Regions from separate parts of the Homo sapiens genome. Here region 1 is linked to region 2. The links come from fine-mapping of genetic effects on gene expression. A gene starts in region 2. The other region holds a variant in brackets. All regions are shown on one strand. Distances are from middle to middle. Region 1 holds the start of MYOC (myocilin). Region 2 holds the start of VAMP4 (vesicle associated membrane protein 4).

What was found. PIP is the estimated chance that this variant, and not a neighbour inherited with it, causes the effect.
Region 1: its variant is fine-mapped to the expression of VAMP4 in lung (TOPMed, PIP 0.91).

Annotation. Positions count from the first base shown.
Region 1 is chr1:171,639,200-171,652,913 of GRCh38, reverse strand. MYOC (myocilin) reads left to right here and starts at 226. Exons shown (of 3, transcript NM_000261.2): 1 at 226-906. The coding sequence starts at 303. RefSeq lists enhancers at 7,045-7,551, 7,552-8,058. The variant C/T (reference allele first, on the strand shown) is at 3,105.
Region 2 is chr1:171,732,854-171,749,518 of GRCh38, reverse strand. VAMP4 (vesicle associated membrane protein 4) reads left to right here and starts at 7,454. Exons shown (of 8, transcript NM_003762.5): 1 at 7,454-7,609; 2 at 11,056-11,170. The coding sequence starts at 11,105.

The DNA of each region.
Region 1 (13,714 bases), 95 kb after region 2:
GAGATATAGGAACTATTATTGGGGTATGGGTGCATAAATTGGGATGTTCTTTTTAAAAAGAAACTCCAAACAGACTTCTGGAAGGTTATTTTCTAAGAATCTTGCTGGCAGCGTGAAGGCAACCCCCCTGTGCACAGCCCCACCCAGCCTCACGTGGCCACCTCTGTCTTCCCCCATGAAGGGCTGGCTCCCCAGTATATATAAACCTCTCTGGAGCTCGGGCATGAGCCAGCAAGGCCACCCATCCAGGCACCTCTCAGCACAGCAGAGCTTTCCAGAGGAAGCCTCACCAAGCCTCTGCAATGAGGTTCTTCTGTGCACGTTGCTGCAGCTTTGGGCCTGAGATGCCAGCTGTCCAGCTGCTGCTTCTGGCCTGCCTGGTGTGGGATGTGGGGGCCAGGACAGCTCAGCTCAGGAAGGCCAATGACCAGAGTGGCCGATGCCAGTATACCTTCAGTGTGGCCAGTCCCAATGAATCCAGCTGCCCAGAGCAGAGCCAGGCCATGTCAGTCATCCATAACTTACAGAGAGACAGCAGCACCCAACGCTTAGACCTGGAGGCCACCAAAGCTCGACTCAGCTCCCTGGAGAGCCTCCTCCACCAATTGACCTTGGACCAGGCTGCCAGGCCCCAGGAGACCCAGGAGGGGCTGCAGAGGGAGCTGGGCACCCTGAGGCGGGAGCGGGACCAGCTGGAAACCCAAACCAGAGAGTTGGAGACTGCCTACAGCAACCTCCTCCGAGACAAGTCAGTTCTGGAGGAAGAGAAGAAGCGACTAAGGCAAGAAAATGAGAATCTGGCCAGGAGGTTGGAAAGCAGCAGCCAGGAGGTAGCAAGGCTGAGAAGGGGCCAGTGTCCCCAGACCCGAGACACTGCTCGGGCTGTGCCACCAGGCTCCAGAGAAGGTAAGAATGCAGAGTGGGGGGACTCTGAGTTCAGCAGGTGATATGGCTCGTAGTGACCTGCTACAGGCGCTCCAGGCCTCCCTGCCTGCCCTTTCTCCTAGAGACTGCACAGCTAGCACAAGACAGATGAATTAAGGAAAGCACAGCGATCACCTTCAAGTATTACTAGTAATTTAGCTCCTGAGAGCTTCATTTAGATTAGTGGTTCAGAGTTCTTGTGCCCCTCCATGTCAGTTTTCACAGTCCATAGCAAAAGGAGAAATAAAAGGACCGGGTGAGATGTGTCTGCATATGAGCAGTAGAAAGTTGTCAATTGTCCCTTTTGAAAAACTATCCTTTTTTGAACCTTTGCTCAGATTGTTATTTGTACCTTTTGATGTTAAAATGACCTTTATTTATGAAATTACAATAGATTTGGGAAATGATAATAAGTGGTAAGTTTTTGTTTATTTTTAAATGTTCTTCCCTGGCAAAATAAAGAGATGGCACCTCTCTGTCAGTTTTCTTAATATGTTGTTCTGAAAGTTTTCTTACTCAGTCCAATCTGAGAACCTCTGCTTTTAAGTCATCAGACAAATTCTTGAGATGGCTTTTTCTGAGAGGCTCTTCTGTTCATCCTGGTCCCTTCTTGCCTAAAGGTGAGTCTGTGTGTGTGTGGGGGGGGTGCGGGGGTGAGGTGTTGGGGGAGGTCTTCTTATTAGCTGGGAAGATGGTATTTGTGTCACTTTTTGTGAAAGTGGGCTCCCAAATATTCCCTGTTGAGGAAGTGTTCTAATCATGAGGAAATAAGCAAGCAAATCCAGTTGTTGGACAATTAGTTTGGACTGGTCAAAGATGTCAGTGCCAAGGAAGAAAGAAAAAAGGGGTGGGGAAGGGCTTGTTCTATATTAAAGAGACTAAAGAAATGTGTTAACCAAATGTAGTGCATGAGTCTTGATTGGTGTCTTCATCCAAGGGGGAAAAAGGCTATGAGGAACAGGTTTGGGATAACTGAGGCAATTTGACTGCTCATTATTATGTTACTGTATTAATGTTCAGTTTCTTGGTGAGATAATGATACTGTGGTTGCGAAGGATAAAATCTTTGTTCTATGGAGATACATGCTTAAGTACCCAGGGTGAGGCGTCAGGATGTCTGCAATTTGCTCTCAAATGGTTGAAGAAAGACTGCAAATATATAGATAATGAGAGAAAGAAAGGTAAAACAACTGTGGCAAAATATTAATAACTGGTGAATTACAAACTGGTGAATCTAAGTATATGGGGAGCTTATTGTACTATTCTTTCAGTTTTTCTATAGGCTTGAAAAGCTTTAAAATTATGAGAAAATATTTCCTAAAAAGAGCCTTCTACGTGAAAGGCAAGCTCTTCATAGCTATGGGGTTAGAAAACCTAAGAGCCAGAGCCTGGGGATGACCTTGGGCAAGTTATTGAACCCTCTGCATCTTCATTTCTTGTCCATAACATAACAAAGAAAATTCCTGCTGTGAATAATTTTTGTGGGGTTCACATGAAATACCTATAAGATGTAAAGGATTTTTAAAAAATGTTTAGATTGTTAGAATTAGAAGAGATCCAATTCTGAATTTTACAACCAAGGAAAGTGAAGTCCTAAGATGCTAAGGGGCCAAGGTTGCCCAGCTGGTCAGTGGTAGAGCTTGAGACTTGAATCTGTGGAGACAATTGAAAGAATCATCATTACCAGAAGTGTGATGAGGCATTACTTATTTCAGACTGTTGAATGAAGTTACATTCTCAATAAAAACTCCTGCATGTGTGTATGTGGGTGTGGGTGGTGTGTGTGTGTGTGTACAAAAATAGTGGCAATGTTTTGCCTTTTTTTTTCTTTTGTGGTCATTTAACAAGTCTTTGGGGATTTATTAGATGTGTTTCCTAATTTTATATTTTTTCTTGATCTTTCCAGCTACTCCACTTTTGAAATAAGGGCAACATCCCATTATATTGAACACCAAACATGGAAGTTCTTTTCTAGTAGTAGATGTTTTTCATGAGCAGGAAATTACATTAGTACAAGAATGTGGAACTGGAAAGGGACCTAATGAGCATCCGGTACCGCTGGCTGATTTTTGCAGATATGGAAACTGAGGCCCAGAGAGGTTATTCAGCTTGTCCATGGCCATCTACCAGTTAGTGGCAAAGCTCGAATTCTGGCCTCTTCCTCTGAAGTTCAGTGACTTT[C/T]TTTCTTTTTTTTTGAGACAGAGTTTCACTCTTGTTGCCCAGGCTAGAGTGTAATGGCACGATCTTGGCTCACTGAAACCTCTGCCTCCCGGGTTCAAGCAATTCTCCTACCTCAGCCTCCTGAGTAGCTGGGATTATAGGCATGTGCCACCATGCCCGGCTAATTTTGTATTTTTAGTAGAGACAGGGTTTCACCATGTTGGTCAGGCTAGTCTCGAACTCCTGACCTCAGGTGATCTGCCGACCTCGGCCTTCCAAAGCACTGGGATTACAGGTGTGAGCCCTCCCTGTACATGGCCATGAGGTTCATTGACTTTCAAGACCTTCAGCTGACCTCTGGTTTATAGACCCTAAAGGTAAAAGACAGAAAGGTACAGGAATGCTTGGAACAAAAGATCTGTTTCAAGGCCAGATCTAGGGAAAAGGGGGCATTCTGGAGGCTGGAATATAAGTCTAGGTATGCTTTTTTGCAGGAGTGGCAAGAACTAGGTGTGAAGGTTTGGGTAGAGAAGCTTAGTGAGGCTGAGTGGACAAAGGTAAGGCCTGAGAAGGCAGCCTTTCTGTATTCCACCTGCAACTCAAATTGTTACCACCACTTTCTTGATCATGTATTAATAGTTGTTATGTAGAAAAAAATTCCTTATAATCATAGAAATCACTTGTTTATACATACACATAATATGACATATTTTACTACATAACTATTACTACAAAGTTATATATAACTTTTTCTTCTCTGGGCTTATATAAATTTTCATATATATACATATATAAATTTTATGTATATATAATAGTTTTTGAAAAGTAGAAAAAAAATACAATTAGCCAAGTGTGGTGGCTCACACCTGTAACCTTAGCACTTTGGGAGGCCGAGGTGGACAGATCACTTGAGGTCAGGAGTTTAAGACCAGCCTGGCCACTGTGGTGAAAACTTGTCTCTACTAAAAATACAAAAATTAGCCGGGTGTGGTGGCGGGCACCTGTAATCCAGTTACTCCAGAGGCTGAGGCAGGAGAATCGCTTGAACCTGGGAGGCAGACGTTGCAGTGAGCCAAGATCACGCTACTGCACTCCAGCCTGGGTGACAGAGCGAGACTCCATCTCAAAAAAATATATATATTACATATAATACATATAAATATATATAATTATATATATAAATTTATTATATATATAATAAAATACATATATAATTTACTAGAAGATAAATTAGAGTTGGTTATTACTGTCACAAGAGAAGGACTGCTTTGTTTGTTATTTAGCCCCTGCTTTGGACTGGTCTCCTGTTGAACAGAGCCTGGAAGAGGGCTTGTGTGCAGTTGGTTTATATGGACCATGATCCTAGAGAAGAGAAGTTGAGACAGGGGAAAGTGAGACAGGGAAGGCAGGAAAGCCACAAAATGGGGGCCTTCTCCAGCTAGTCACCACAGTGGGCAATGGAGGCTCAATCCCATCAAGCCCTTCAGAGGGGCTGTGTAGACTGCAACAGAAGAGGGGAGGTTTACGCATGGATCTGATACCCTCTTGGCCAAGGGCTATCCCATGGAGTATATTGCGCTTCCCTGATACTCAGATGTGGGGACGAGGTTTGTTCTTGCAGACTGATTTTTTTTTTTTTTTTAAGATGGAGTCTTTCTCTGTCCCCCAGGCTGGAGTGCGGTGGCACGATCTTGGCTCACTGCAACCTCCGCCTCCTGGGTTCAAGCAATTCTCCTGCCTCAGCCTCCCGAGTAGCTGGGATTACAGGTGCACACTACCACGCCCAGCTAACTTTTGTATTTTTTTTTTTTTCCAGTACAGACAGGGTTTCACCATGTTGGCCAGGCTGGTCTTGAACTCCTGACCTCAAGTATCCACCCATCTTGACCTCCCAAAGTGCTGGGATTACAGGCATGAGCCACGGCGCCTGGCCTGTTCTTGTAGACTTTCTATGCAGAAAGTCAGAGAAGCTGGGCCACGGTGGCTGAGGCGAGGTCCCCGCAGGTGATAACTGCAAGAGGCAGGTTGCCTCAGCAATGACTGCAAAAAAGTGGGCAGGATGTGAGGGGAGGGTGAGGGGAGAAACCTGAGGTGTTCAACACAAGTGCTGCAGATTCCCTTTCCTCACCTAGAATAGGATGGGGATGAGAATCCCTCATGGGAGTCATCATGCAAATTAGCAGTCACACAGGGAAGCACCCAGTGCAGCGCTGAGCAGTGGCCACCCAGTGAATAAAATATAACTAGAAAGGCTTATTTTACTTGAGTTCCACTATTGTTTTTGTTTTTTGTTTTGTTTTGTTTTTTGAAGATGGAGTCTCGCTCTATCACCAGGCTGGAGTGCAGTGGCGTGGTCTTGGCTCACTGCAACCTCCACCTCCTGGATTCAAGCAATTCTCCTGCCTCAGCCTCCCAAGTAGCTGGGATTACAGGCACACGCCACCATGCCCGGCTAATTTTTGTATTTTTAGTGGAGATGGGGTTTCACCATGTTGGCCAGGCTGGTCTTGAACTCCCGACCTCGTGATCCACCCGCCTCAGCCTCCCAAAGTGCTGGGATTACAGGCATGAGCCACTGCACCTGGCCAGGGTTCCACTATTGTTTTAAAGCATCATTCAATAATCAATATGTCAACATGTGCATAACATTTTAATAACATGCGTTGATTCTAGAGACAGTACAAGTTAGAGCAGTACTCAGGACAATAGTCTATTAGCTAGTCTTCACTTTCCTAAGATGTTTCTGACAACCTGTAGATAATTAGGCATAGCTTGTTTTACTTCATTCCTTTCATTTATGTAATATGGACTGAACTTTCCAGTGATAGAAAATATCTATGAAAATTATTACAATGCCTATGTCTACAGGCAAACGAGTTAATAAATTCAGTTTCCGGGTTGAGGTCTCTAAAATGCCAAGTCTATAAAGAAGCGACGGCAGAGAACACAGAACATTTCCAGAATTTTGTAATAGACATGAACCTTTAAACCACAGAAGGACTGAATTTAACATTTTAAAAAACCTAGAAAAAAAACAGCTGGGCGTGGTGGCTCACGCCTGTAATCCCAGCACTTTGGGAGGCTGAGGCAGGCGGATCACGAGGTCAGGAGTTCGTGACCAGCCTGGCCAATATGGTAAAACCCTGTCTCTACTAAAAATACAAAAATTAGCCAGGCGTGGTGGCAGGCACCTGTAGTCCCAGCTACTCAGGAGGCTGAGGCAGAAGAATCACTTGAACCCAGGAGGCAGAGGTTGCAATGAGCTGAGATCATGCCACTGTACTCCAGCCTGGGTGACAGAGCGAGACCCTGTCTCAAAAAAAAAAAAACAAAAAAAAAAACCTTAAAAAATAAAAGCCCCAAAAATGCTAACTATCTGACACAGTACAGCCCTTAATATTTTCACAGTCTCTTTTTGGTTTTCCTCCACATTCACAATGAAATGTTAGTGATTTTAAAACATTCCAGAGAAATTTTAGTGTTGACACATCTTTATTGAGGGCCATTTCATTTATAGTTACTTATGTAATCATCCAAACAATTCAGCTCAGCATACTGGGGCTCAGAGAGGTGGAGTCATTTACCCAAAGTCACACAGCTGGGACATGGCAGAGCTGAACTAGGAGCTATGACTTCCGGCTTAGGTCCAGGCCCCTTTACGAGATTGTTTCCCTGCCTTTGGGTTTTGCATCCTCTATTCTGGGCTTCCACCCGCATGCCAGATGGCTCTATTCCTGGAGTCTGACCATTGCCAGATGCTCCTGGCTGACATGACCTAGAAGAAGCCAGCAGGCTCATAACTTAACCATCGCCCCTGCCAAATGGGAACTGGCCTTGCCGTCATCCTGGAAGCCATTCCCTGACATTTTGTTTTATTGCAGTTCATGTTTATTCCAGCTAATGCACATAAGGAGTGGTTCCTGCAAGGCACAATCTGAAGGGCTCCTTGCTCAGAGCCGTAAGGGCCATGGTGGGATTCAGCAGGGAACTTGGCACCAGCCAGGCACTTTTGCTGCCTCTTCTTTGCCAGTGAGGGTAGAAGAACTGATAAGAGGATTGAGTGCACAGCCCAGGAGCTGAGAGTTTACAAGGCAACCCACTGGGACCTGAGCTCAGCCCCAGGAGTGGGTCACCCCACAAAGTGCTGAGCAGCATCTTTGAGACTCTTCTGAAGCCTCCAGTAGCCATCTGGGTCCAGTCGGGAGATAGAAATCACACAGTGGGTTAAGCTGGGGAAGTTTACTTTAAAGAATTACTAACCGTGATGAAAGAGCAACTATAGATAGACGTGAACTCCATAGGCACCTAGGGCTGAGGGAGGGTGCCGGACAAGCTTGGAAGGGGAAGGTGAGGTTCAGCACATCAGCTTGCAGAGAAGGTGGCTAAGGTGTGCAGGCCTCAGCTGGTCTGCAGCTGCAATAGGCCGCCTCCCAGTGCAGGTGAGGAGGGCAACCTGCAACGTGTGGCAAGGGCATGGTGGGAGTCAGGGCAGGCACAGGCAGGAGGCCTCCAGAGCACTGAGGTCCGTGTGCAGGGACTCTGGGTTCCTTGTTGGGAGGGCTGTGGAAAGGTTATGGCCAGGCTGTGGCTGTGAGGTCACAGAAGAACTTCGCTCTGGGTCCGTGGCTGGGGTAGGACTCCAACAAATGTCCTCACAGTCATACCACCTATGGACGCAGGACAGGAAAACTGCAGACCTTTTTCCTCCCACGATGTCCCTCCAGCGCCCTCTACTGAGATAGTTCAACATCGCGCTCACTTCAAAGCTCTTGTTCTTCAGACAGCATACATGGGAGGGTGCATTCAGCTCTGAGAGGCAATGCGTTTATAACTGACACACCTCCTCAGCACAGGATGGAAGAGTTCGCAGCTGCCATGGCCTCGGAAGACATGGGTTCAAGTCCCAGCGATACCACTTAGCTGTGTGACCTTGGGCATGTTACTTAACCTCTCTGAACCTCGGTTTCCTCATTTGCAAAAGGGGATATTAATGTTCACTTTCAGGACCATTATTTGAAAGTAGTGAGTAGCAAGCACCCAGCACAGTACTGGCTCATAAGAGACACTTAATAAGTAGTAGCGATAGTTCAACTTTATCAGGCGCTATCTGCAGTCCTAAAGCCTTTCTCTATTTCTCTGAAACTTTGAAGGCACCAGATCACATTTAAAAATTACATAAAAATTACTTGAAATGGGCAAAGAGCTATAAATGCCGACAAACCATCTTGTTTCACAAAAAAAAAAAAAAAAAAAGCTGTTTTTTAGAGTTGCAAAGCCAGTACATACTTTAGCTATCCACAAGGAAGTCATCTGTGAAAATGCCTGACTTTTTTGGGTTTCACTTTCTTCCTTCCCTCTATAGCAAAAGGGGCATTTCTTTCTTAATTTTCTCCCCACTGACTGGTAGGTAGGTACCCCTACTTTTCTTAGTATACATCTTTTCTCGGTAAGTTGTTAAATTAAATAACCAGCATAAAATACATCATTTTGTATGTGTAAAGGGGCCAGATGCAGGGGAGGGATGGCTCGCCTGAATTTAATATTTTTTTAAAAACCTAAAAAAAAAAGCCCTAAAAATGTTAACGATCTGTCACAATATAGCCCTTAATATTTTCATAATCTCTTTTTGGTTTTCTTCCACATTCAGAATGAAATGTTAGTGATTTTGAAACATTCCAGAGAAATTTTAGTATTGACACATTTATTAAGGGACCCTCCCATGGCAACTGTGGATGGCATAGCTGAAGTGTAGGGACAAGGTTGGGGCAGTCCTCCAGACTTTGTGTACAGATGGCATGCAGTATTTCTCTCTCCTCACATTGCCTGAAACCAACTCCTTTTTTTTTTTTTTTTTTTTTTTTTGAGACAGAGTCTCTCTGTCACCCAGGCTGGAGTCCAATGGCACAATCTCAGCTCACTGCAACCTTTGCCTCCCAGGTTCAAACGATTCTCCTGACTTAGCCTCCCTAGTTGCTGAGATTACAGGCATGTGCCACTATGCCCGGCTAATTTTTGTATTTTTAGTAGAGACAGGGTTTCAGCATGTTGGTCAGGCTGGTCTCGAACTCCTGACCTCATGATCCACCCACCTCAGCCTCCCAAAGTGCTGGAATTACAGGCGTGAGCCACCATGCCCAGCAACTCTTATATTCTGAGAGTTGAGACAATGAAAGAAAAGAAATTTGAGTTGTCCTGAGGCAGAGTCTGCAGTGATCCAAGAAGAGGTACAGATGAAAGGAAACCAGCTCAATTCAAGGAACTTGCTTAATGCCCTGATTTTGAAAAATTGTCCTGGCAAGACTTTGCCACATCGAATGAGCCTCTGCACATTGCAGGAGGCTGGCAGGGCCAGGGAGCGGTGGGCTGCTCCTAACAGCCTGGGTGTGTGTTCTGGGCCTAAGAGAGAAGGCATGGCAATCGGCGAGGCAGCATCAGAGAGGAAGGTTACAGATGGTTCTGCCACCTGTGTACAGGAAGGCGGTCACTCTCTCTTACCTCTCCCTGGCAGCACAGAAGAACAGGGAACCTCGGGCACCCTGTCCCTCTCCCCCATAGGCAGCACCAAGTCCCTGCCGGAGGTGTGTGTTGCCTGCACAGGGGGAGAAGGGAAGCAGCTGGTACTGGTCTCAGGTCGATCTAAGGAAACTCCATTTGACCTAGTGAATCAGTCCCTGCCCTGGATACCCTCCTAGGCCAATGCAACCTTTAGAATGAAGAACAAAGGGGTTTCCTCACCCCTGCACAACCTCAGATAGGGAGAAGGAGACGCAGGGAATGAAATAAAAGTTTCCAGGACTCTCCAGGAGCCATTCAGATTGTCCAAGAAACTGGTTTCCGCAGCAGCCTGGAATAAACCCATTTTCCTTCTCGGGTATGAGGACTTTGCCAGATTATGATTTCCTTAAGGGCATGGACTGATTGTGTCTTTTTTTTTTTTTTTTTAAACATAGACTAGCCTATTAGACAAACTTGTGTCTTAGACACCTTTTTTTCTTGAGCACCTAGCACAGCCTTGCACTCAATAGGTGCTCCAATGATGTGACTAAAAGGATGGATAAATAGCTCTGTGGATTTGAGGCTAGGAATAATGAAGGCCTGCCATGTCCCGGGGGGTACTCCCAATTGCCCCTGGAGTTTGGAATGCACATTGAGGATGTCCTCAGTTACATATACATTTTGGCTTATGAGTCTTTCTTTTTTTAATTTTTTTTTTTTTTAAGACAGGGTCTCACTCTGTCACCCAGACTGGAGTGCAGTGGCATGATCATGGCTCACTGCAGCCTTGCCCTCTTGGACTCAAGAGTCATCTTCCTGCCTCAGCCTCCCGAGTAGCTGAGACCACAGACTGCACCACCACACCCAGCTAACTCTTTAATTTTTTGTAAAGATGGGGTCTCGCTATGTTGCCCAGCCTGGTCCCAAACTCTTGGCCTCATGCAATCCTGCCACCTCGGCCTCCCAAAGTGCTGGGTTTACAGGCATGAGCCACTGCGCCTGGCCAGCTTATGGGTTTTAACTACTTACATGGTGCACTCTAGACTGAGGGATATCCCAGGGATGGAGGACCCACCCACCTCCAGGGCATTAACACTTTTAGGGAGGCTAACAACTGCAGCCACACAGAGGCAGGGGTGGAGAGGAGAGAAGGGTAGCTGGGATCAGGGGCAGGCAGCTGCAGCAGCTACTGAGCTGGCTCACTGTGGGCAGCATGGCTGTCTGGCCCAGCCTGCACCTGAGAGCTAGCTGAATGTTTTCTTCACCTCCTTCCAGGGAGAAATTTTTTCCAGTACTATAATTTGTTGAAGCTGAACCCCAGCAACTCAAACAAGGTACCCTGACTCTGGAGATGTGAAAATGTAAAATAATGTGTGGCTTTGATGAAATGTGGTAGAACCAGAGGATTAAGACTTCTGTGGTGATCCTCTCTGCCTGAAATCTAAATTTAGGAGAGCTGAGCAAACAAATGATCAAAGGCAGAACATGTCTTCCCGACCCTCTCGGCTGTGTAGGCGCTCCGGCCTCAGGGGATGCACTGACTTTCCTCCCACTGTCCTGAACACCTGAGAATCCTGAGCGGGGAACAAGTTGCTCAAAGGGCAGAGAAGTGACTCAGAGGTTCAGCAAGAGAAAAGCCCAGTGTATTAAGCATGTCTTTTTATTCTGATGCTTTGCTGTCTGGGCCTTGCAAACGTGAGAGGGACTGCCCCTCCCAGGGGTAGCCAGTTCCTACGGTTAGCAAAGGACTCACCTGGGAGGACAGCTTTCATATGCAAACCAACCAATCCAGAGCCCACACCCTGTGACCACCTCCATCTGGCTCAAACTCAAGGCCACTGTCCCCCTGACCTAATCACCCAGGGCCTGGTACCAGACAATTAGAGATAACTCCTGTGACCCCAGATCCTGCTGAAATTATTCAAACTCCCCAATCCTAAACCTGCTTACCCTGCCTCCCCTTTCTTTCCTTCCCATGGAAAGAATAAAGGCGCTTTCCCACATTTTCCCCTGGTGCCCTCTTCTGGAGCAACCCTGGTGCTTCCCCAGGTGGCCTCCTGGGCTTAGTGTGCCCCCTTCCTCTTGGGCTCTGTGAGTACAACAACTTGTAAAGATAATTTTTTTTTAGAGCAGTTTTATGTTCACAGCCAAATTGAGAGAAAAGTACAAACAGTTCCCAGATACTACTGGCCCCCACACATGCACAGCCTCCCCGATTATCATCATCTCCCGCCACAGCAGTTGTTACAACTGATGAACCTGCATCAGCACGCACAACACCCAAGGTCCACGGTTTAAATTAGGGTTCATTTTTGGTGTTGCGCCTTCTATGGGTTTAGACAAATGCATAGTGACATGTGTCCACCATTATAGTATCATACACAGTATTCATTGCCCTAAAAATCGTCTGTGCCTCACCTAGTCATCCCTTCCTCACCCAACAACTGCTGATCTTTTTACTGTCTCCATAATTTTGCTTTAACTTGCTTTTCAGTGACAATTGCCTCCTGGGATGTTGGCCTTGCCACACCTGAATAATCATCAAACCTGCATTTTATTTGTTTTTATGTGTATGTGATGGGTTTTTTGGGAGGTTGGAGGGGAGGACAGGGTCTCACTCTACGCCAGGGCTGGAGTGCAGAGGTACGATCACTGCTCACCACAGCCTTGACCTCCCGGTCTCAAGTGATCCTCCCACCTCAGCCTCCCAAGTAGCTGGGACTGCAGGTACACATCACCACCCAGGCTAACTTTTTGTAGTTTTTGTAGAGATGGGATTTCACCATGTTGCCCAGGTTTGTCTTGAACTCCTGGGCTCCAGTGATCTGTCTACCTTGGCTTCCCAAAGTGCTGGGATTACAGGTATGAGCCACTGGGCCTGGCCAAACTGCATTTTAAAATAGCCAAGCCTGTTCCTTGTGACTATTGCCTCATCCTTGTATTCAAGACTGCTGTAAGATCATAATCCTAAGCAAGAGTAGAGACATGTAGCACACCATGATCACTTACTGTCTAACCAATGCTGCCCACCCGCTTCCCTTCTGTATGGCTCACCACCCCCACCCCAAACTCCTATAGGAACTCTGCACACACTCCCTCTCCATTATGCAAAACTGGTCTCAGAAAGGAATCAGACAGAATATTTCTACTGAAAGTATAAAGCTTAATATGTTACTTCTTACAAGAATATTTGCATATAACAAGGGAAAAAACCTTAAGTCATGCAGTAAACTTTTATCTTTTTTTTTTTTTTAACAGGAGTCTCCCTATGTTGCCCAAGCTGGTCTTGAACACCTGGGCTCAAGTACTCCTCCTGTCTTGGCCTCCCAAAGTGCTGGGATTACAGACATGAGCCACACTTCTTTTTTTTTTTTTTTTTTTTTTTTTTTCTTGAGACAGAGTCTTGCTCTGTTGCCCAGACTGGAGTACAGTTGCACAATCCCGGCTCCCTGCAACCTTTGCCTCCTGGGTTCAAGTGATCCTCAACCTCCTGAGTATCTGGAACTACAGGCATGTGCCACCACACCCTGCTAATTCTTGTATTTCTAGTAAAGATGGAATTTCACCACGCTGGCCAGGCTAGTCTTGAACTCCTGGCCTTAAGTGATCCGCCTGCCTCGGCCTCCCAAAGTGCTGGGATTTCAGTGTGAGCCACTGTGCCCGGTCTCTTTTTTTTTTTTTTTGAGACCTTGAGACCGGGCCTTGCTCTGTTACCCAAGCTGGAGTGCAGTGGCAGGATCATAGCTCACTGCAGCCTTGAACTTCTGGGCTCAAGCAATCCTCCCACATCAGCCTCCCAAGTACCTAGGACTGCAGATGCTTACCACCATGCCCAGCTAATTTTTCATGAATTTTTAATTATTGAAATTCAGACATCTAAGAAGATGCTGAGGACTGTCTCCATATTCCTGAAATTACGACTCACCTATTCACAAACCAGCCCTTCTAGTGGAATTAAAATATTATTTGATTTTGAATACCCTACTCTAAGGTAGGCACATTGCCCTGCAATTTATTATTTATGAGGTTTTTAATTATGGAATTGTTCAAATATTCACAAAAGTAGAGAGACTACAATGAACTCCAATGTAGCCATCACTCAGGCCCAACTGTTATCAGCACAGTCCAATCATGTT
Region 2 (16,665 bases):
CAGCACAATCAGGGCCCACTGCAGACTCGACCTCCCAGGATCAAGCAATCCTCCTACCTCAGCCTCCTGAGTAGCTGGAACTACAGGTGTGTGCCACCATGCCTGGCTACTTTTTAAATTTTTTGCAGAGATGGGGTCTCACTGTGTTCCCCAGGCTAGTCTCAAACTCCTGGGCTCAAGCAATCCACCTGCCTCGGCCTCCCAAAGTGCTGTGATTACAGGCATGAGCCACCACACCTGGACCATTTTTTACTATTTTAAAAATTTTTTATTGTATATATTTTTACTTTCTAAACTTTTTTGTTAAAAACTAATGCACAGTCACACCCATTAGTCTAGGTCTACACAGGGTCAGGATCACCAATATTGCTGTTTTCCTCCACATCTTGTCCCACTGGAAGGTCTTCAGGAACAATAACACACACTATTTTAACACACACTAATTTAACAACGTTTTCTTCTGGAATACTTCCCAAAGGACCTGCCTGAGGCTGTTTGACAGTAAACTTTTTGTATAAGTAGAAGGAATATACTCTAAAATAATGATATATAGTATAATAAATAAACTGGTAAGAGTCATTTATGATCAAGTATCACAGACTGTACATAATTGTATATGCTACACTTCTGTAAGATTGGCAGTGCAGGTTTGTTCACACCAACATCACCACAAACTCATGAGTAATCCATTGCACAACAGCAACAACATCGTTAGGTGGAATTTTTCAGATCAATTATAATGTTATATATATGCAGTCCTTCGTTGACTGAAACGTCCTTCTGTGGCACATGGCTGTAGTTGCCTAGTCTTGTTTTTCTGTGCAAGATTGTAAGTTTTTAAGAGGACAGTAACACTGTTTGCCATTTTTGTATCCCCAGACTTTAACAGAATACCTGTCACACATATCTGATGGACAAATTGATTCACTTTGATATAGCACCCAAGATTAACAAACTATAGATCATTTCTATAGTTTGTTATAGAACTATAACACAGTTCTATGTTATAGTTTGTTGTACCCTGAAAGTACAGTCTTCACTCAAGATAAATATTACCATCTTCAGCAAGAAATTACAGTTGTATTTTACCTTAAGCAGACTAAAGCCTCTTGAATCAAGTGCGATCATAACAAGACATTATGCTTGATGGATTCTCCGTCTAAAGATGGAGTCTCCCTCTGTCGCCCAGGTGCAGTGTCACGATTTTGGCTTACTGCAACCTCTACCTCTCAGGTTGAAGCGATTCTCCTGCCTCAGCCTCCCGAGTAGCTGGGACTACAGGTGTGTGCCACCACGCCGGGCTAATTTTTTCATATTTTTAGTAGAGATGGAGTTTCACTGTGTTAGCCAGGCTGGTCTCAAACTCCTGACCTCAGGCAATCCGCCCGCCTCGGCCTCCCAAAGTGCTGGGATTACAGGCACGAGCCACCGCGCCCAGCCGCCTAATCTCTATTATAAGGGAAAAGCATGTGATTCATTTAGAGAAAATATTTATCTCAATTTAAGCTTATTGCTCTGCGATATTTTCTAGTGTTCTCAGTTGTACCATTCTCTAACCTTGGACAAATCACACGTCATCTCAGAACCTTGAGGTCTAAATGATAAAATGAGGAAAATGACACTTGATATCAGAGAGGATTTGTGCAGAAACATATGCTAATCATTAAGCATAGTTCTTAAGAAAACAGGCATGAAACCAAGAAAATAAATGGTAACCATTTTTAACTTTCAGAGTAGTAAAATAAATTTGTAACACAATTAGAGCATATTATTATGCAGGTTCTTCTAATGTTGCCATCTTTGTGGGAGGTAATTTCTCCAAGATAAAATTCTTGCAACATGTCACTACCTCAATAAACAAGAACAGTTAGAAGAGAAACAAAGCACCTCCCTGAGACCATCTTATAATGTCACATCTAAAGTTTCATGAGGAAGGCATCAGGGCATTTCCCATATTATTATATATATTAAAAATAATTAAACTATAGTTGAACTTATCTTTAAAAACTAAATTCCTCTTGCTTTGTTACTCATTACTATTTTCTCTGTAGACTATACTCACATTGCAAAGGACATAACTGAGACGGCTGGCAAACTTTGATATGGATGCTTTGATAGAAAATAATATTGTATCAATGTTAAATTTTCTGAATTTGACAACTGAATTACAGTTATGAAGACAATGTTCTTGTTCTTAGGAGATATCTAATGAAGTATTTAGGGGTAAAGAGGCATGATAGCTATAACTAATTTTCAAATAATGCATGCCGAGGGGAGATATAAATTTAAAGAGAAGTAATAAAGCAAACTTAGTGAAATGTTAACAAACCACGTAAACTCTCTGGCACTCTGTTTCTTCATCTACCTGGAGACAAAAAGAGGGCTGAACTATTTTGTTTTTATTCACACTGTCATGAAATCCATTTAGGAGTTGAGGTCAGCATTAGAAAAGCGTTATTAATGAATCTGGATAGAGGATTTAAAAGCATTCAAAATCAAAACTAAAATAAACTAATATCATATTTATATAACACCAAGGCACTCTAAGCATGAAAAGCTTATGGTTAACTACATGATATCTGTATACTTCTTCTCCAAACTAATTGAGTTACATGCTTACAAGAGTCAATTTGCATTTGTACTCCAAAGTATTTATGCCTATTATACTTATAGAATATATTTAAATATGTAAACTAATGAAATACAAATAGAAAGTTATTTTCTATAAAAACTAAATTGATAAACATGAACAACAAACAAAAATTACTATAGAACTAGGCACAGGTAAGACAAACCTGTAAAACTTTGGAGAAAAAATTGTACAAAAATCTAGACTGACTGGGCATTCAAATTGCTTGAAAGGTGTCTTTAACTTCTTATTCCACTTTGAAGAAAATGAAACTGTAAACTGTAAACAATGCAACTTGTAACAAAGACAAAGCAGGTGTTCCAACCAGCAAATTCATGCTCAGATAAAAGGTCTTGGGCCTACTACCAAGACTGGTGAGTGAACATATACATTTGAGTCAAAATAAAATGACTAAAGTATATATTTGCCATTTTTAAATATGTACCACTGTAACTGACTTTTTAAATTAACTGGTCCAGTGGTCCCAATTTTAGGGGAAGAGAGTGCCTCTACCATTGTTTTAATTGAAAAACTGATATACATGGTAAAGATATTCCAATAGTACAAAACACTACACATCAAGAAAGTTTCCCTTCTGTATTAGTCTTCTAGGGCTGCTATAATGAAATACCATGGACTAGGTGGCTTAACTACAGAAATTTATTTTCTCACAGTCCTAGAGGCTAAAAGTCCAGGATCAAGGAGTCATCAGGGTTGGCTTATGGTGTGGCCTCTCTTTCTGGACTGCAAATGGCCATCTTCTGTGTTCTCATATGGCCTCTTCTCTGTGCCCATGCACTCAGACACTAGCCCTACAGGATTAGGGTTTTGCCTTTTTGATTTCATTTAACCTTAATTATTGTCCTAAAGGCCCTATCTCCAAATCTAGTCACACTGGAAGTTAAGACTTCAACATATGAATTTTGAGGGGACATAATTCAGTCCATAACACTTTCCATGCCAGATTCACAGTCCTCCTGGTGTGTGTGTGTGTGTGTGTGTGTGTGTGTGTGTGATGCTCAAATGGAAGTAGAGTCTACACACTATTTTGCACCTTACTTTTCTCACCTTATAGCATCATAGAGGTATTCCATGTCAGCACATATAGATCTATCTAGTTCATTTTAATGGCTGCATACTATTCTATTGAATGGCTAGACTATGACTCATTTCAGCAATTTCCTATTGCTGAACATTTAGAGTTTTTTTTTTCACTCTGTTACAAAAATCCTGTAACAGATATTTTTATAGAATACTTTTATATACAACCTGTATACCCATGGGATAAATTTTAGAAGTAAAATTATTAGATCAAAAAGAACTTCATATAAAATTTTGATACATATAATTACCATGAAATTTTTAAAAATGCACCAATTTTTATACTCTTACTGTTTAAGAATGCTTGTTCCTCCCACGCTGCTCCCATACCACACATACACACACCCAATATTGTAGTATCAAATTTTTTTTATTTTTGCTATTGAGCTAACACAAAAGATCAAACTGTCAAATCAGGCTCAAATCAGAGATTTTACTCAGTATCAAGCTTTACTAATAGTTTCAAGGATACCAGTAATCCCCAGGTCCTTTCTTCTTGCTTTGGATGCATCCTGGCCCAGGACAGTAGATGTGGTTTCTAAATCAAGTGTACAGTCACCCCACTTACACAGAAGGAGCCAAATCAGTTACAAAACACTTCCATTTTATGCTACGTTACATAACTTCCGCGGTATTTTCCAGTTAATCATACCCCTGAAATCCGCATTGATTCTTTTTTGTTTTGTGAGAGGGAGTCTCATTCTGTTGACCAGGATGGAGGGCGGTGGCGCGATCTCTGCTCACTGCAACCTCCGCATCTCCAGTGCAAGCTATTCTTCTGCCTCAGCCTCCTGAGTAGCTGGTGTTACAAGTGTACACCACCACACTCAGCTAATTTTTGTAGTTTTGGTAGAGACGGGGTTTTGCCATGTTGGCCAGGCTGGTAACTCCTGACCTCAAGTGATCCACCTGCCTCAGCCTCCCAAAGTGCTGGAATTACCACATCGATTCTTAATGTGTTTACCATAAACAATCCCAGCCCTGGGACATCCTGTTAGAGGAATTCCGTAAATATGGACTCTCTTGCTAGCAAATGCCATTAGTTTGTTTGCCAGGAGGTCTGTAATTAGTATATACTTTATATTTTATAAAAATCACATGCTTTTTTGCTTGCTTTAACCTTGCTTTCCTGAGAGTATTTCCCTACGAAGGGAGAGACTGGATTGCAGATCTTCTGCTCAACTCCTTCTTTCTCAGTCACTGATAGATGAAAAATGGTATTTCCTTGTTCACTTTTACATTTTAAGTAATGTTGAACATTTAGCAACAAAATATTGAAAGCTAGAAGGGAGATGAATCAAGATGCAATTGCCTTAGCAGACTTGAAAAGTAGGAATCCCAAGCAGGCCATGAAGCAACCTGATACACACAGTGAAACCCTGTATAAGGCTCAGGAATTGGAAACACCACGTAAAGCTGAAGAGAGCATGATGTGAGCTATAAATACAGGCGGAATGGTATAAAGTCTGTTTAAGAATGAATCAGATGCTGAGATTCCCTTTGCTATCCCATCAAAAACCCAGAGATTTAGTCCTGAAAGACAGCAAAACGCTGATTCTCTAGCTAGGAGGACAGCAGGCCCTCTTAAGGATGAAGGTGTCATGTTGAAAAAGGGGAAAAGAAAATTAGAGGACTAACATCTGAATAACTGAAGCTCACTAAAAAGAAAATGGAGGAAATAAGTAACTCAAGTTGCTTGGAGTTCTGACTCTAAGCTCAGTGCTATTATAATCTTTTAGGCTTACTGGTATATTTGATTCATGTTAACTGTAAAATGACATTTTCTAAGTTTCACAAATATTGGGGTTAGTCAAAGGGACTTTGTTCAGGTGATTAAGGGTGGGGCTTGCATTACCCCTCTCCTAAGCGATCATTCCAAAATGACTGGCAGGACTAAAGAATTATGTTTAAAAAACAAAAAAACCCAAAGAATGGATTATCTGTAAAAGCTATGCAATGACGTGCCTGTTAGAGCTCACTGACCACACCTTAAGTTGTCTAAGAGATGAGGCTATAACTAGCTAAACTCTAATTGGCTAAGGCACCAAAGCCAGAAAATAGCCCATAACATGCAAATATACAGACATAAAATCAACTGTAAGTGCTGGGCACAGCTGCTCATGCCTGTAATCCCAGCTACTTGGGAGGCAGAGGCAGGAAGATCACTTTAGCTCAGGAGTTCAGAGCTGCTGTGCGCTATGATTGTGTCACTGCACTCCAGCCTGGGGGAAGAAGTGAGACTTCATCTCAAAAAAAAAAAAAAGATCAGCTGTAGAAGAAAAAATAATGTCAGGGTTACCTGTGGAGTCTGGGGGTAGACCCACTATCACACCTAGACAGGGATACAAACCATGAGAGGCTTCTCTTCTAAGTGGGCCGTTTCAGTCCAAGTTGCTGACTTGGACAGCAACTTGGACTGAATAAACACAGGCAACTGAGTTTAGCATTAAGCTTTCAGAACCTTCAACTGACAACTCAACGGCTGTTTCTAAATCTCAGAACATTTAAATCAGAATCTAGGTAGCACGTGGGCACCTACGTAGTTTTAAAAGCTTTCCAAGTGATTCAACTCCAAGTGAATCAGAGTGGAGCATCGTTGCCTTAGTCATGGCATCTTTCAAATTCGTTAGTACATTTTTACATAAAAATAAACATCAAACAAAAGAAGAACAACTTTTTGGTAAGAGGGTGTCTATTCTTTCCTTTCCTTTAGTGTCCGCAGATCTTTCCTCCTGCTGTTTTCTTGTCTACTCTTGTTCTTGAACACCCCCTCTTATTTTTATGTCTTTAGAAAGTGCCTGGCACAGTATTTCAGACAGTTAAAATACTGTATCAACAAAGGACCCATAGATACTGTATTAATTTTAAAAGATGTGTAGTGAATATGATTCAATGAGTAAAATAATCCAGCTGGGGCGTGGGAGGAACGGATAATAAAACAAATAAGAGAACGGAAAAACAAAATTAGGAATTGTTTCTGGTAGACAGCTACTGCGGGCGTGGAGATCTAAACATGATACCAAATTGGGCGGAGGGGGAGGGAGTGAGGAAGGAATGGGCAGAGTGGCGGAATGGCCTGGCGAGGGCGATTTCCTGAAGGCTTTCAGGTTACAACTAAGGGATACCGGGAAAAGAACACCGAGCCCTCGTCCCGTATCTATCTAAACTAGCCGTGTTAACTTTAAGTCAATCTCCTCTCTGAACCAGATATTCCTCCTATCTAAAGGGAGGAGCCTGGCCTTAACATCTCTTTCCAAGTCTAGCTCTAATTCTGTAAACAGGGGATCAAACAGATCTCCTTTCTTCAGAAAAGGCCCCAGACGAACCCGAAGCAGGTCCTCGAGCTGCGAGCCACTCTCCACTTGCCACTCAACGTAGTCAGCCAGAGGGACGGATGTGCCACCAAGCACCACCTTCTTTCTAACGCCTCATCACCCCAGCCACGCACTCCGGCGCGGCGCCCAGTCCCGAGCGGTTCTCGGAAGTTTCCCACTCCTCCCCTAATCGCCCTCCACGCACGCCGGATCACGACCGGAACGTGGACAACCAGTGGTTGTTCCTCCCCTAAAGCACAGCATAAATTTGGAGAGATGCATCTAAACTGCGTGTGGGTTCGGGCTCTTTTAGGTGAATAGGGCTCGGCGGATCGACTTCCTCGATTATCTCCGTGCCCTGGACCCGCCCCCTCCGCCTGGCGCCAGGCCGCCGAGCGCCGATCGGCTCGATGAGCGGAGGCGCTGCTGCGGCGCTGCGGCCGACGCCGGGTCCGCACCAACTGTCTCCCCCTCCCAGCTTCTTACCTCGGCTTCCTACTCCTTCCCCCGCCCGCCCAGCACCGCCAGCCCGGGAGAGCTGCCGGGAGTTCCCCGGGAGCCTCAGGTACTGGCGCTGGCCTGTTCGCAGCGGGAGGGGCTGGTGTGAGGAGGAAGGAAACGAAGAAGACGCCCCTGCCTTGCCGCCCCCCGACGTCCTAGTCGGGCTGGTCGGCGGGCCTCGGGGATCTAGGAAGGGACCCCGGAGTGGGAAAAGGTTGGGGCCGGGGGTGCCGTGAGGAAGGAAGACGAGGACAGGGGTATGCGGACGAGGAGCAGTTGAGGGAGAGAAGAATTGGAATTGAGGGGTACTCTGGGGTGATGGGAAGAGAACAGTACCATGGATGGGGAAGGTTTGTTAAGAGTGGGATGTAGTGAGGAATTCCAGGGGGTACAATGGGGCAGGAAGGGCCAGCGTTAGGAGCAGATATATCGTGGGACGTGGCCTGGTGTGACAGATTGGGTGTGGGGGGTGAACGGAGCTGCCTGAAATTGTGTATTTAAAGGGCCCGGGGGAAAGAGCGCCAACCCTGCTGTGTTTATAATGACCGGAAGGTGGGGGTGAATCGTTACACTTGACAGGTTTTGCAAATAATATCTCCGGTCTGTGTCCATCCAAGTCACTTTATTTCTGTGAAACTGCATCAAGCAAGAAGGCTGATGACAGACAAGGAAGACGAATCAGAAAGAGAATGGAGGCTGGGAAAAGGAGAGCCTTTGCCCAGATTCAAAGCTATTGACTAGATAACGTACTACTTACAAAAACGCACACATAGACATTTAAGTATATGCTGATGTATAAGAAGCATACGGTGATGTGACTCATTTGAGTGAATTGTATAGTGGTGGTCTATCCTCAATGTGGAAGTACATGATGGCTCTCTTATTTACATGTATACCTAGTCACAAACAGCTGAATTCACATGTCTTTTTTTGTAGGAGAAATCTTAGGCAGACTATATCCTAGTCTACTTTCTGAGCATGATTTATTTCTACTAGTTGTTTGATACACATATCAGTTACTAATAATCAGTTGCAAATAACATCAAAGTTCATCAAGGTAGCTAATTAATCTGCCTACTGCTTTGCTGATGGGCTATTTGTTGCACATGGTTTCTTGGGATTAAGAGACCTGAATATGGTGTTTGCTCATCCTTAAGATTGTAGTTTTACTGTATGTCTTATAAAGGCATTATATAAGTCTGCCCGTTGTTTGCTTTGGGATGTTGAGGCAGCCTCATTGCAGGGGTTAAAATCTAAATACAGATAATAGTTAAAAGCACAAGTTCTTCAGTAATTTGCCTTGTCATCTGTTTTTCCATGCATTCTGTTACATTTCTGCATGAATGAAGTATTCTGACATCAAAGTATGAGGAATAAAAGGGCCAGATGTATGTGACAGAAATATTGTGGAACCAAGAACTCAAGAGCTGTTACTCAGGCAGCAAGAATTTGGTTTTTGTTACAAGTGAATAATTTCTGATTTGGAAGCATTTCTTATCAAAGAAAAGTGTGTCCTTTGGTTTTGACAAGCAGCTGACTTAAAACATTACTTTTATTTGGTTCGTGAAGCCAGATCCTGGGATTATTCTTTTTTAAGTGTATATCATTAACAAACAAACTGATGTCTAACTATACCTAATTTAAAGGTCTAAGTGTTTCTTCTTATGGAAAAGGAAGCAGGACTATTGGGTTGTTAGCAGGAAGTGAGTCTTTCTAGAACAGAATTCTGTAAACCTGATGGGCAACTAATTGAACAAATGATTAAAACTGATAATGCACAGCCATTGATTAATTTAGGCCTGTATCTCTGCTGTTTCAATGAATGTAGTGACTAACGTTATCGTTACTAAACTTTAGTTTTCTCCTAGTTTCTTGGTGCCTACTTTAAAGAAGCATCATAAAGAGTAAAAGAAAATGCATGTGTATCACTGAGCACCGTGCCTAGCACATAGTAAAACATTCAGTATTTCTGAGCTATCCTGAATTGATGGGTATTCATCTACCATCTAGTCAAAAATACTGAAAATTCATTATTTGCATAGAAGAACTTTTTCGCAAAAAAAAATTTTAGTATGTTGCATACACAAGCATTTTCCTGGAAAGTCACAATGCATATTAGCATATAACAGGATGTGAGTCATTCTGTAGCAAAGAAAACTAGCTTTGTTTAATCCAGTTGTTTTGATAGAAAAAAATTGAGTTTCTCCTATTCTCTCTCAACACAGACCCCCAAAAGATTTCTCCTCACAAGCAAGGAGGAAATTCTGCAGCAGATTCTCCAGCTGGGTGTCCTCTAATTCAATTCTGATACTGTATACCTAGAGATAGCATCAGATCCTGCAGGTTGAGGGCTTAATCCTACAAGATTCCCCCCACTTCAGGTGCCAATCACAAGTTCCAGGTTGTTTTACCTGTGTTTCCAACTGACTGGCTATAAATCAGAGTTCCCACAATCCCTTCCTTGTGTTCAGTTTATTTGCTAGAGTGGCTTACAGAATTAAGAGAAACACTTTGTTTACTGGTTTATTATAAAGGATAGAGATCAACAGCCAGATGGAAGAGGTGCATAGGGCAAGGGGTACAGAGCTTCTGTGCCCTCTCCAGGTGTGCCACCGTCCAGGAACTCTCTACTTGTTCAGCTTTTGGGAAGCTCTCTGAACCCTGTCCTTTTTGGGTTTTATGGAGTCTTCCTTAGTAGGCATGATTGATTACATCATTGGCTATTAGAAATCAGTTCAACCTTGAGCCCTCCTCCCCTTCCAGGAAGCTAGGGGGTGGGGCTGTAAAGTCCCAGTCTTCTAATCATGCCTAGGTTTTTCTGTGACCAGCCTCCATCTGGAATCTATCTGGGGGCTAAGCTACCAGTCATCTTATTAGCATACACAAGACACATCACTGCAGCGATTCCAAGGATATGTCAGGAAATGGGGATTAAGACCAAATGAGTATATTTTGTAAATCACGATATCACACCAGTACTTACCAAACTTACCCCTTTTCATGGAGTACCAATGGGACATTATAGTTTGCAGAATATTTTTGCATGTATTATCCAATTTGACCGTCCCAACTCTGCAGAAGCCTGAAAATCAGTATTTTACACCTGAGGAAACTGAATCATTGCTTAAGCAACCAACTAAAAGTGAGAGAAATAGGCATGTTCTCCTGTCTTCTGACTCCAACTTTAAATTGTAAAGCATTTAATGTCTCAGTGAGACGTCCTCCCTCTACTCTCTGCTCTTTCATTTTATAAAAATCTTAAATCACTCATATCCTACACATGTTCTCTTAGGGCAATTACATCCATTTTCTCATAATTTTAACTATTTCTTAGGTGTTGAGGTCTAGCATGGAGGCCCCAGTCACTGGAGTGGAACAAGTGAGAGGGCAGGAATTGAAGTCAGAAAAATGAGGGAGTCCCTGTCATACAGGGTTTCATGTACACTGTTTTAAGTACATTAGCTTATGCCCCAAAGTCTCAAATCTGATGAAATTTATTTTCTCTTTAAGGTGGTGACTATCCTGTTGAGAAGCAAAAGATACTTTGCAAGTAAAAAATATGCCTCCCAAGTTTAAGCGCCACCTCAATGATGATGATGTCACAGGTTCTGTGAAAAGTGAAAGGGTAAGTTCGGAATCTTAAGCTTTAAAAACAAAAGATTCAAAATATGTTTTCATTCCCTTTGTGAATAATAGAAGAAAAACCATCCGGGCGTGGTTGCTCATGCCTGCAATCGCCGCACTTGGGACGCTGAAGCAGAATAGCTTGAGCCCAGAAGTTCAAGACTGTCTTGGACAACCCAGGGAGACCCTGTCTCTATAAATAATTTTTAAAAAATTAATGGGGCATGGTAGCACATGCCTATGGTTCCAGCTATTCAAGAGGCTAAGGCAGGAGGATCACCTGAGCCTGGGAGATGAAGGCTGTGGTGAACTGTGATCTGCACTCCAGCCTGAGCAACAGAGCAAGACCCTGTCTCAAAAATTAATTAACTAATAATAATAACAACAGAAAAATCAAAAGCTTATGACTATATTCTAATCCTAATTGTTTTCTTCATAGCAAATGTATTTAAAAACATGTTACTTAGATTGGTGACAACTGAATTCTACTTCCATTATTGATCAAATCATTATTCTCATAGCTTCTTTCTAGTTTTTGAAAGGGAGTTTTATACAAATACACAATATCTTATTCAGAACTTTGAATGTATTTGGAATTTTTCAGATTTTAGAAAGTTAAGAACATATTATGTAACAGCATTTTTGGGGCCTGGACCAGTGCCTCCAAAAATATTAATATTTCTCAGTGAAGTCTATATTTAGTTATATCTAACTAACTATGTAAATAAAGTGTGTAAATAAACTAGCTAACATCAGTTCAGGTCAAATTTTCCTCCAAAACTTTTTGATTTTCAGAAGCTTTTAGATTTTGGAATTGCAAATAAAGGTCCCCAGACCTGTAATTATCTTATGTTCCAGAGTATCTTTTATATAATGCTTCAATTTCTAGTTTATTCCAGAACATTCTATGCAAATATATATAAATCTAGAAATTATGCCGCATTTAAAAGACAACATTTTATATGAATGTTGTAGGCAGATTACTTTTAGAATAAGTACTCAATACATATTTATTGGGGGAAATAATTCACGTTCTTATTTTTTTAATGCACCATTCTGAAGCCCTCCTTCCTTTCCTTCTTGTCTTGATTCATTCAACAAATATGTATTGACCACCTCCTATGTGCTAGGCACTGGGCTAAAAATTGGAAGACATAGTCTGTGCCCTTGCAAAGCTTTTAGTCTGCTTTGTTTTACATGCTCTTTTTGGACAACCTCAGAACTTCATATTATCCACTCTGTCCACCATCTTATGACTTTTAGTCATAAGTTTCTTTTAGTACAACACAGGAAACATTTTCTTCCCCTTATTCTAACCCTTTGTACAGCTTTTGCGGTTTTGTGTGTTTCTGATGGTTTGTTTTTATTTTTTGAGACCAGGGTCTCGCTCTGTCATTGAGGCTGAAGTGCAGTGGTGCAATCACAGCTCACTGCAGCCTCCACCTTTTGGGCCCAAGCTATCCTCCCACCCCAGCCTCCTGAGTAGCAAAGACTACAGGTGCATGATATCATGCCCAGCTAGTTTTTGTTTTTCTCGTAAAGATGGGGTTTTGCCGTGTTGCCCAGGCTGGTCTCAAATTCCTGAGCTCAAGTAATCCACCTGCCTTGGCCTCCCAAAGTGCTGGGATTACAGACATTTGACACTGCACTCGGCCTGTTTTGTTTTGTTTTGTTTTGTTTTGTTTTGTTTTGTTTTGTTTTTTAATGGGGAAATAGAATCCACCAATAGATTAATTGCTAGCAAGCTTTTACTAATAAACTTTAAGGAGTCACCAATGATTTCCATGTTGCCAAATCCAGTTACTCCTTCTTTGCCATAATTTCAACTGCTTACTAGCATTTGGTGCAGTTTCAACCATTTTGGTCACCTATCTTTTCCTCCATGCCATGGTGAAACTCTTAGTGTCTGCTTGAGCTAGTTCCCCATGCAAGGAATTGAGAAATGCCTTGAAATATACCAAGTCTGGGTGAACCCGGAAGGCTCTGGCCGAGAGAAGGCAGAGGATGATCAGGGATTGAGAAATCACTCAGGGATAATCCAGGGTCTCTTTCTTTAATGTAATATCTTTCAAGATAAACCTCCAAGAAAAAGTGATTCAGAAAATTTGATATACCTGTGCTGGAATTCCATACACTGAAGATTTACTATCAAAAGCATGTCTTGGCCAGGCGTGGTGGCTCGCGCCTGTAATCCCAGCACTTTGGGAGGCCGAGGCGGGCAGATCACTTGAGGTCAGGAATTCAAGACCAGTCTGGCCAACATAGTGAAACCCCATCTCTAGCAGAAGTACAAAAATTAGCCAGGTGCGGTGGTGCACACCTGTAATCCCAGCTACCTGGGAGGCTGAGGCAGGAGAATTGCTTGAATCTGGGAGGCAGAGGTTGCAGTGAGCCGAGATTGTGCCATTGCACTCCAGCTTGGGTGACAGAGTGAAATTCCATCTCAGAAAGAAAAAAAAAGCATGTCTTTACAAAGCAGAAGGTTTGGCGAAATACTAAACCCATTCAGAGAATAAATGTCAATTTGTTAAAGTAAATGATACCAATTGTGAACCTATAAAGGAACCCAGTGTAAAACAACACAGACTTGATATGCATCCAGTAAAAGCTGACTGAAAGCTCCTGATGAATATTCAGTGATCAGCGTGCACAAAGCATGCTGAAATATTTTTTAAATCATCGGTTAGAAGAATCTGAGCCTCTTTCCTATTGCCCCAAGGAAATCTTTAGTCACTTACCCAGAGATGCTTGCAAAGCATTAATATCCTGGAAGATGATCAATAAATGCTGACAGTTGATTGACTGATATCTGAGATATGTCAGGTAAATACCTCAGTCCTGGACAGAGAGCCCCTAAGTCACATCTGCCTTTGTGTAAGATGAAGACTGAAGTATGGAAATGTATGTAGTAAAATCACCTCTCGGAACTTGTTTGTAATTCATACAATCTATGTCAATTTTGAAAAATGTATGTAAAGCAGAGAAGGTTGTAGCCAAATTCAATGTATAGTATGCAAGAGTATATTATTTAATAATTTTTAATTGATGCAAATCCCATTAATTTTATAGTTTTATTTTTACATGATTTTAAACTGAAACTATTTATATTTCCTAAGTTCCCCTGTGTTTCTTTCTCACAATCACTGCTGAACGTAAATTTGTTGTTCACTTAATGGAATCACTGTTAAGGACACAGTCACTTGAATATGATTGCTTTTTAAAAATCAAGTCCAGGCGTGATATACTAGGATCACAGTTTCATGGCATGTTGGTCATAATCCTGAGAAAATAGTGACAAAATTATTATTTGTAGATATTAAATACCAGTTTAATAATATGTGTGGAAATCAGATTAAATAGTACATAAAGCCCACCCTAATAACAAGGGCAGGAAAAATTACTTCAAGAAAAACAATAGTAAACCTTAAATTAAAAATAATACAAATAAATAAGCTTTATGAATACATTTTTAAATTTAAAATGTATTGTCTCAATAAATTCCACTGCTGAGACTGTAATTGTATCACTTTCTCCTTATATTCTTCATTGATTATTAGTATATTAGACACCAGAACTGAATAAAATTGACTGTTTCAAGAGAACTCCTTTTTGATGTTTATTATATTATGAAGTTTGATAACTGATTGGTTAGAATAATATATAAATTACTTTTAAAATCTTTTAAAAGTTTTGTTCCTCTTTCCTATTATACTTTTTTGGTAATAGCTTTATTGAGATAAAAGTCACGTACCATACAATTCACCCACTTAAAGTGTACAATTCAGTGAGTTTTATTATATTCACAGAGTTGTGCAACAATCACCACAATCAATTTTAGGATATTTTCATTAGCCCAAAAAGAAATGCTGTGCCCTTTTGCAGTCATCTCCCATTTTCTTTATCCCCTCAGCCTCTAAGCAACTGCACTCCTATAGATTTGTCTATTCTGGACGTTTTCTGTAAATGGAATCATATAACATATAGCCTTTTGTGACTGGCTTCTTTGACTTAGCATAATGTTTTTAAGATTCCTCAACGTTATAGTGCATATCAGTGCTTCATTTTTTTTTTTTTTTTTTTTTGAGACGGAGTCTCCCTCTGTTGCCCAGGCTGGAGTCCAATGGTGCGATCTCGGCTCACTGCAACCTCCACCTCCTGGGTTCAAGTGATTTTCGTGCCTCAGCCTCCCAAGTAGCTGGGATTACAGGCGTACACCACCACGCCCAGCTAATTTTTGTATTTTTAGTAGAGATGGGGTTCCACCATGTTGGCCAGGCTAGTCTCGAACTCCTGACCTCAGGTGATTCACCCACCTCGGCCTCCCAAAGTGCTGGGAGATCTTCATTCCTTTTTATTGCTAATAATATTCCCTTATATTGATATAACACATTTGGTTTGCCCATTTATCAGTTCATAGATGTTTGGGTTTTTTTCTACTTTTGGCTATTTTAAATACTACTGCTATGAGCATTAGCATACCAGTTTTTGTTTGAGCATGTTTTTATTTCTCTTTGGTGTATACCTAAAGGTAGAATTGCTGAGTATTGTAGTAACTCTCTGTTCAGCCTTCTGAAGAACTGCCCAGCTGTTTTCCAAAGTGGTTGTACAATTTTTACATTCTCACCGGCAATGTATGATGATTCTAATTTCTCCACATCCTCACCAACACTTAATATTATCTGCCTAGTGGGTATGAAATATTATCTCATTGTGTCCTATTATTCTTTTTTGACACTGTATCCCTAGCACTTGTGTTTATTCAATTAATATATGAAAAAGCATTGGTTTTCATGTGTGTTTCTCAGTGTACAATTATAGTAAACATATCTTTAGTATCATTATCCTCTAAACCAAATAAATTATTACTATTACTATTATCATTATTATTTTGAGACAGGGTCTGGCTTTGTCACCCAGGCTGGAATGCAGTGGCACGATCAGGGTTCTGCAGCCTCCTCCTGGGCTCAAGCAATCCCCCCAAGTAGCCTTCAGAGTAGCTGGTATTACAGGCATACACCACCACGCCTAATTTTTTTTTTTTTTTTTTTTTTTTTTGTAGAGATGGGGTTTCACCGTATTGCCCAGGCTGGTTTCGAACTCCGGGGCTCAAGTGATCCTCCCTCCTCATCTTCCCAAAGTGCCAGGGTTACAGGCGTGAGCCACCATGCCCGGCCATAAACCAAATACATTATATTATAAATGTAATGCTTGTCTGTTACTTGTTAGCTAGAATATTACTCAAGAAATATTTATTTAAAAAATGACCTAATGCATTTCCTTGAATATTAATTGGTTTTGAACATTTCATGTGGTCATTGGCCATTTCTTCTATTGGGAATTATCTATTTCTATTCTTTGTTTTTCTATAATGTCTCTTTTTCTTACTAGTTTGTCAAAGCTTTTTATATAATACAGACATCAGGTCTTTTGTCTTAAAGGATACTGCAGATGTTTTTTCCCAGTCTGTTGCTTGTTTTTTAACCTTGTTTTTGATGT